2 linked regions of the Homo sapiens genome follow. The protein of the gene in region 1 interacts with the protein of each later gene in a biochemical or structural test. Each region holds a gene or a part of one and is shown in the gene's direction. Other genes may lie near its edges.

The links.
Region 2: of the proteins of CCNY (region 1) and CDK16, one has a biochemical effect on the other in vitro, tested with the Homo sapiens proteins (one study listed by IntAct).

Annotation. Positions count from the first base shown.
Region 1 is NC_000010.11:35,563,509-35,567,008, forward strand, and holds part of CCNY (cyclin-Y), read left to right. Parts: intron 1-2,514; coding exon 2,515-2,677; intron 2,678-3,500. UniProt on the Homo sapiens protein: Positive regulatory subunit of the cyclin-dependent kinases CDK14/PFTK1 and CDK16.
Region 2 is NC_000023.11:47,221,681-47,225,180, forward strand, and holds part of CDK16 (cyclin-dependent kinase 16), read left to right. Parts: exon of another isoform or gene 1-580; coding exon of another isoform or gene 581-662; exon of another isoform or gene 663-700; intron 701-1,370; exon of another isoform or gene 1,371-1,415; coding exon of another isoform or gene 1,416-1,631; intron 1,632-1,871; coding exon of another isoform or gene 1,872-1,877; coding exon 1,878-2,079; intron 2,080-2,704; coding exon 2,705-2,838; intron 2,839-2,937; coding exon 2,938-3,063; intron 3,064-3,153; coding exon 3,154-3,210; intron 3,211-3,307; coding exon 3,308-3,422; intron 3,423-3,500. UniProt on the Homo sapiens protein: Protein kinase that plays a role in vesicle-mediated transport processes and exocytosis. Regulates GH1 release by brain neurons. Phosphorylates NSF, and thereby regulates NSF oligomerization. Required for normal spermatogenesis.

The DNA of each region.
Region 1 (3,500 bases):
TCCCAGGTTCACTTGGGATTTGCTCCTTTGACGTTTGACAGTTCTGGCCTTAGCAGGGCCTCTGACGCTTTCGTTTTGTTGAAGTCTTACCTGGATTCCAGTATTTCACAGGATGATCTCTTATTAAATCTCATTTAAATGAAGCATAAATAAAAGTTGTTTTAAGTAAAAATTATCCCAAATCAAAGTAAATTATTATTTATTTATTTATTTTTGGGACAGAGTTTCGCTCTCGTTGCCCAGGCTGGAGTGCAGTGGGGCAATCTCGGCTCACTGCAACTTCCGCCTCCTGGGTTCAAGTGATTCTCCTGCCTCACCCTCCTGAGTAGCTGGGATATTAGAGGTGCCCACCACCATGCCTGACTAATTTTTTTTTTTTTTTTTTGAGACAGAGTTTCGCTCTTGTAGTCCAGGCTGGAGTGCAATGGCGCAATCTTGGCTCGCTTCAACCTCCACCTCCCGGGTTCAAGTGATTCCCCTGCCTCAGCCTCCTGAGTAGCTTGAATTATAGGCATGTGCCACCATGCCCGGCTAATTTTCTTTGTATTTTTAGTAGAGACGAGGTTTCACCCTGTTGGCCAGGCTGGTCTCAAACTCCTAAACTCAGGTGATCCACCCGCCTCAGCCTCCCAAAGTGCTGAGATTACAGGTGTGAGTGACCACACCCAGCCTAAATTCTTAAAACTATGAAATTTAGTACAGTAAATACATTTGGAGCTTGTTATCACTCTTTTCACGAGGCTGTGTGGAAACAAGCAGTGACGCTCTTCATCTGATGAAGAGACCGGAATGGGCCTTCCTCGGGCCTCCTTCCTTGCCGCCTGCCCACAGGTCCCAGTGCTCCTTTCCCCAGCAGCTTCATGTCTCCCCAGAGCCACTGGCCTTGCTCAGCCCCAGCCTCCCCACCCGCCTCCTTACTGTTCTTGTCCTTTGTCACAGCAACTTGAGCTGGTGTGGAGCCCTCCTCAGTCCTTCATAGCTGAGTGCTATGAGTCACCGGGAACAGCCATAGGGGTCTCGGGACATCACTCAGGACAGGATGGTGCCTGCATGTGAGGCTCAGACCCAGACCCTCAGCGTTCAGCAGAGTTGGCAGGACATGACTTAGAATGCCGAGGCTGGGATCAGGGTCAGGAGGGTGAGGCCCTGCACTAGGGCCCTGGCTTCACTCACAGGAAATGGTGACTGTGTGTTTTGGCTGCCTGCAGCAGGTTGGAGGGGACCCACTCTGCCTGAAACACCCCCTCCTCAGCCCTGGTTCCTCTCCGCCAGAGCTCCATGCTTCCCTCACCTCAGTTCAGCTCTCACTGCTGTGGGAAGCCTTCTGAGATCATGTGCTGGGGGCCAGGCATGCAAAAGCAGATGTTGCACTTCCTGACTATGAGGAGAACAGCCCAAGAGGCTGAGTTCAGCAGCCACATGCTGCATAGTGTGGGCAAGGACAGGAGGTTTCCTGGAGGGTGTGCAGTGGGTGGGCACCCTGTGGGTGGGCACCCCTGGGGGCTTCCTGGGGAGAACGTGCTGAATCTGAGTGCATGACCCAGGACCAGTGCTCCACAGATAGTTCCCTCACTGAGAAGGTTCCCCCCACCCAGAGGAACTATCTAGAAATAAACCTAATTTGAAAGATAGCTGACATGAGAAGTTCTTAAAGTAGAAGTTTTTGAATTTCTCCCAGCATTCCATCAACATGTAGATGGGTTGGCAGGGTGGATCTTAGCACCTCCTCTCCCAACCTACCTTTTTAGTTGAGTGGTTCTCAGAGTGTGGGCCCGGGGCAAGAGCCTCAGCCTCACCATCATCTGGGAGTTCCTTAGAAATGCACATTCTCAGGCCCCACTGCAGACCTACTGATCCCCACAGTGTGAAGGTGGAGCCCCCTGTCTGTTCTAACAAGCCCACCAGGTGATGGGGTGCGTGCTCAAGTGTGGAAACTACTGCTTCCATTCTTCCCGGCTTGTGAGTTCTCTTTTTAAGAGACTGAGGCAGAGACTGGACACCCTCCCCCCATAATCCCTGCCTTTTGCCTAAGAAAGCCCCTACACAGTTCCTCCCTTCTTTTCTCCCTGGAGGTAGGGAGGGGCCACCGAGGAAGCCAATGTCCTCTAGGTCTGCAGAGGCTGAGTGTTTTCCTCTGGGCCCCTGCGGAAGGGCCCTCACTGGACTCCACGTGGCAGCTCTTGGCTGCTGCATCCACCCTTTGTTAGCAGCCTGTCCTCACGGAGACCTGCAGCCAGAGCCTGCTGTGTGTGTGTTAGATCTCAGTGAAGTGATTCGCCCTGAAACGCTTCCTGGTGATGATCCCAGTTAACCAGTCCTCATCCTTCTGGGCACCAGATCAAGTGGATTTGGCTTTTAATCCCAATATGGTGGTCTAACCAGACATTTACTTAGATCACTGGTCTTCCTGGAGGATGCAGTTTTCTGGAGTCTGGTCTCCAGCAACTTGCCTTGGCAGGCCACGTGGCCTGGTGTGGCAGCTAAGCATAGGCTATTTTTGTCTTTGCTTTGCAGGAACGAGCTAGAGCGACAGTTTCTTGAATTGCTGCAGTTCAACATCAATGTTCCTTCCAGTGTCTATGCCAAGTATTATTTTGATCTTCGTTCTCTGGCAGAAGCGAACAACCTGAGCTTTCCCTTGGAGCCCCTGAGCAGGGAGAGGGCTCACAAGCTTGAGGTAAGATGGTTTAAAACAGCGTTTTGTGGTGCAGTGTTGCCAATACATCATCTGAGTACCAGAGATGCATGTGGTCACATTGATCATTTCCCCCACTACATGATGTAAAATAAAGATGAGCTACTAGGATATATAGCTGGGCAGTTGATTATGATTTGTTCTGCTTCTTTTTTCTTTGAGACGGAGTCTCGCTCTGTCACCCAGCCTGGAGTACAGTGGTGCGATCTTGGCCCATTGCAGTCTCTGCCTCCCGAGTTAAAGCAATTCTGCTTCAGCCTCTCAAGTAGCTGGGATTACAGGTGCCTGCCACCACACCCGGTTGATTTTTTGTATTTTTAGTAGAGATGGGGTTTCACAATGTTGGCCAGGCTGGTCTCAAACTCCTGACCTCAGGTGATCTGCCTGCCTTGGCCTCCCAAAGTGCTGGGATTACAGACGTGAGCCGCTGTGCCTGGCCAGCCACTTCATATTTTTAATAACCAGTTTAATATCACTTTATACTTAATAAGCAAAGGTTTTTTGTTTTTTTGGGTTTTTTTGAGATGGAGTCTTGCTGTGTTACCCAGGCTGGAGTGCAGTGGCACGATCTCAGCTCATCACAACTCCGCCCCCTGGGTTCAAGTGATTCTTCTGCCTCAGCCTCCCTAGTAGCTGGGACTACAGGTGTGCACCACCACGCCCAGCTAATTTTTTTTTGTATTTTTAGTAGAGATGGATGGGGTTTCATTATGTTGGCCAGGCTGGTCTAGAACTCCTGACCTTGTGATCTGCCCACCTTGGCCTCCTAAAGTGCTGGTATTACAGGCATGAGCCACCACAATTC
Region 2 (3,500 bases), on another chromosome or scaffold:
ACCTTCCTTGCCTTAGGCCCAGTATTCAGCCTCCCAGGTCAGGATGTTTTGTGGTTATCCTGGGTTCTCCATGGATGGACCTCATCCTGTATCTGAGGTCTTTCTGCTAGGGTGGCCCCTACCCCTCCTGGGGATAGTGAGTTCAGCCAGGTGGGGGCGAGAACTGCTGGGGGAAGCACCTGATTTCAAGGTAGCAGATGACCCATTTCTCTCCTCAAATCCAGCCCCAGTCTCATCCTCGACCTCCTATCTAGCTCTACTTCCCTTGGGCCCAGGGCCATCTTAGGCCCTGCTGTGAGTCCAGATGGTTCCTGGGTCAGGTCTTTCCCCCTCCTTGCTGGCCCAGAGCCCAAGAGGAAGCAGAAGACGGCTGGCCTAAGCCTTTTGGTGGCCCCATTCCCTTCAGCAATCCATCTAGGTCATCTTCCTGTCGATGCCAGCATCCCTGGGCTACCTTGTTTAGGGTTGTTCAATGAATAGCAGGGACTCATCACCTCAGCAGAGGTTGGTCCTAGGCCCTCAGCCCCCTGATTCACTTATTTCTGCCATAAGCACTTTTTGAGCATCTACTCTGTGTCAGTCACTATTCCAGGTCCTCAGGATATAGCCGTGACCTAAACACAGAAATCTACCCTGGCGGAGCTGATCTTCTAGTTGTGGCGGTGAGGAGATAGACAGTAAAGACTAAAGAAACCAATAAGTAGGTGGTGTCATTTCTGAGGAGGTAATGAGTGCTGGGGGGATAACTGGCAAGGTGAGGGAGTTCGGGATGGTTGAGATTTTAAATAGGGTTATTCACAGAGGCCTCATGAAAAAGGTGACCTTTGAGCAATGGCCCAAAGGGAGAGGGGAGTGAGCCATTTCGAAATTTAGGGGAAGGGTGTTCCAGGTACCAGGAACAGCCAGTGTAAAGGCCCCGAGGTGGGACTCTACTGGGTGTGGTTGCAGAACAGCAACTAGGAATGATGGCGGGGGGGTGTGGGGGTGGGGGGGGGCCGTGGGCAAGAGGCAATAGGGGCAAATGAGGTAAAGAAACACCTGTGGGCCACATTGAGGACTGGGGCGTGTATTTGGGGTGATGAAAAATGTACATTCTTGAGTAGAGGAGAAATGTGACTTGGCTTGTAAAAGTCTAGATTGGACCCTAGGGGTCCTAACCTGATCAAACCGTTCTGGCAGCCCTGAGAAGAGCTGGTGTACACTGAGACCCCCCCGCCCTCCACACAATCCCACCCAGTGGTTGGGTCTGGGCAGGACACCCTGACACACGCTCCCCTCCCCCCCCCCACCTGGGTAGATGAATGGGATGATGCAGTGGTTGTCATGACGATGAGTGCTAGAGAAGTCAGGAAGAGGGTCCCTGTGGCCACAGGGAATAGTCTGCCTTGGCCTTTGAGGGTGGTGCTAGGGGAACTATGCCACTCTATGGCCGTGCTCGAGACCATGTCACCCATCCTTCAATTCTGGGCACACGCCCTGGCCGACCCATGGCTGGGCCCATCACTGCAGCTGTACCTGAGAAGATCTGCAATGGAGCCTTCTGCTCCTGCAGTGGGGCTTTTCCCCTAGATCCCAACAATCCATCGTTAGGGCCCTTGCCCTCAATCAGCCACCTAAATCTGAGAACTCAGGTGGGCTACGTAGGAGCAGGGTCCCAGTGGGGCTGGCTGTGTGGGTGGGCAGGTACTGACAAAGATCCCCATCCATGCTGGGTTTCCAGAACTCCTGAGTGGCTCTGGGGTCCATAGTGGTTGAGTGAGCACTGACAAGTTCATGTCAGTGCCCCCTGCTAGGCTGTGGGCTTTAGGGAACCCATGGTGATCAAGCAAATGCTAATAAGAGACCCATTTCCATCCTTGTCCCTTGCTCAGATCGCCATGGATCGGATGAAGAAGATCAAACGGCAGCTGTCAATGACACTCCGAGGTGGCCGAGGCATAGACAAGACCAATGGTGCCCCTGAGCAGATAGGCCTGGATGAGAGTGGTGGTGGTGGCGGCAGTGACCCTGGAGAGGCCCCCACACGTGCTGCTCCTGGGGAACTTCGTTCTGCACGGGGCCCACTCAGCTCTGCACCAGGTGGGTCCACTGGCTATCCCCTCTCCCATATGGCCCCAGGCTGCTTCCCAGGTGTTGCCTCCTGGTCACATTCCTCATTTTCCTCTAAATTTTCTGCCCTTTCTCTGCCCCCCATGTGCTCTCTTCTCCCCCTTCCCTCCCATCTTCTCTCAACACCGTCTGTCTATCTGTCCATCTGCGCTCCTCTTCTTGCCTTTCTGCCCAGGCCCCGTGGTGGGGGACAGAAGGTGCCTTGCCTGTCACAGCTGCCCCAAGGCTCCCTCTGCCCTTCTGCCCTCTATGATGGCCTCCTCAGTCCTCTGGTACCTGCCTGCCCTGGGCCTGCCTTCCCAGGACCCTTGGCTTCCCCTGCCACCACCTAGCTGCCGGCTCTGAGCTCAGCTTGCCCTTGGAAGGAAGGGTTCCACTAGGTGACTTTTGCTTCCCCACCCCCCAGTTCAACCTGCCCTAGATGTACCTGAGCTTCCCTGGGCTCAGGTACATCACCCTCTCCCCGAGGGACTCCAGGTTTCCTGTGGGGGCCACGTGCACACATGTGTGATGATGGAATATGTTTCGTGGGGGATGGGGTGTCCTGTGGTTCCTGACCCCACCTGGCCTGCCCTACCCCTCTCCCTGCCACCAGAGATTGTGCACGAGGACTTGAAGATGGGGTCTGATGGGGAGAGTGACCAGGCTTCAGCCACGTCCTCGGATGAGGTGCAGTCTCCAGTGAGAGTGCGTATGCGCAACCATCCCCCACGCAAGATCTCCACTGAGGTGCTTGACCCCGTCTGGATGGTGGAGGAACTGGAAAAGGGGGTTGGACCTGGGGAGGTGGAGCTCATGATCCTGTTTCTCTCTTGCCTTACCTGCTAGGACATCAACAAGCGCCTATCACTACCAGCTGACATCCGGCTGCCTGAGGGCTACCTGGAGAAGCTGACCCTCAATAGCCCCATCTTTGACAAGCCCCTCAGCCGCCGCCTCCGTCGTGTCAGCCTAGTAAGCACCTTCTGTTCCCGTCCTCTCCTTTTTCTTCTCTCCCAGACCCTTCTCCTGAGCCAGCTTTAACCTGCCTCATTTGTCCCACAGTCTGAGATTGGCTTTGGGAAACTGGAGACCTACATTAAGCTGGACAAACTGGGCGAGGTGAGAGGCAAATAGGAGGCCCATGGTGGGGATGAAGGTCAGTGGGAACTCCTGGAATCTCATAGCACCTCTCCTGTCACACTTCCTCACATTCCAGGGTACCTATGCCACCGTCTACAAAGGCAAAAGCAAGCTCACAGACAACCTTGTGGCACTCAAGGAGATCAGACTGGAACATGAAGAGGGGGCACCCTGCACCGCCATCCGGGAAGGTACACACCCCCATCCCATCTGCCCCAGGCTTCCCCAACCCACCCCTGGCGCACACACTCCATAATGAGAACAAAGAC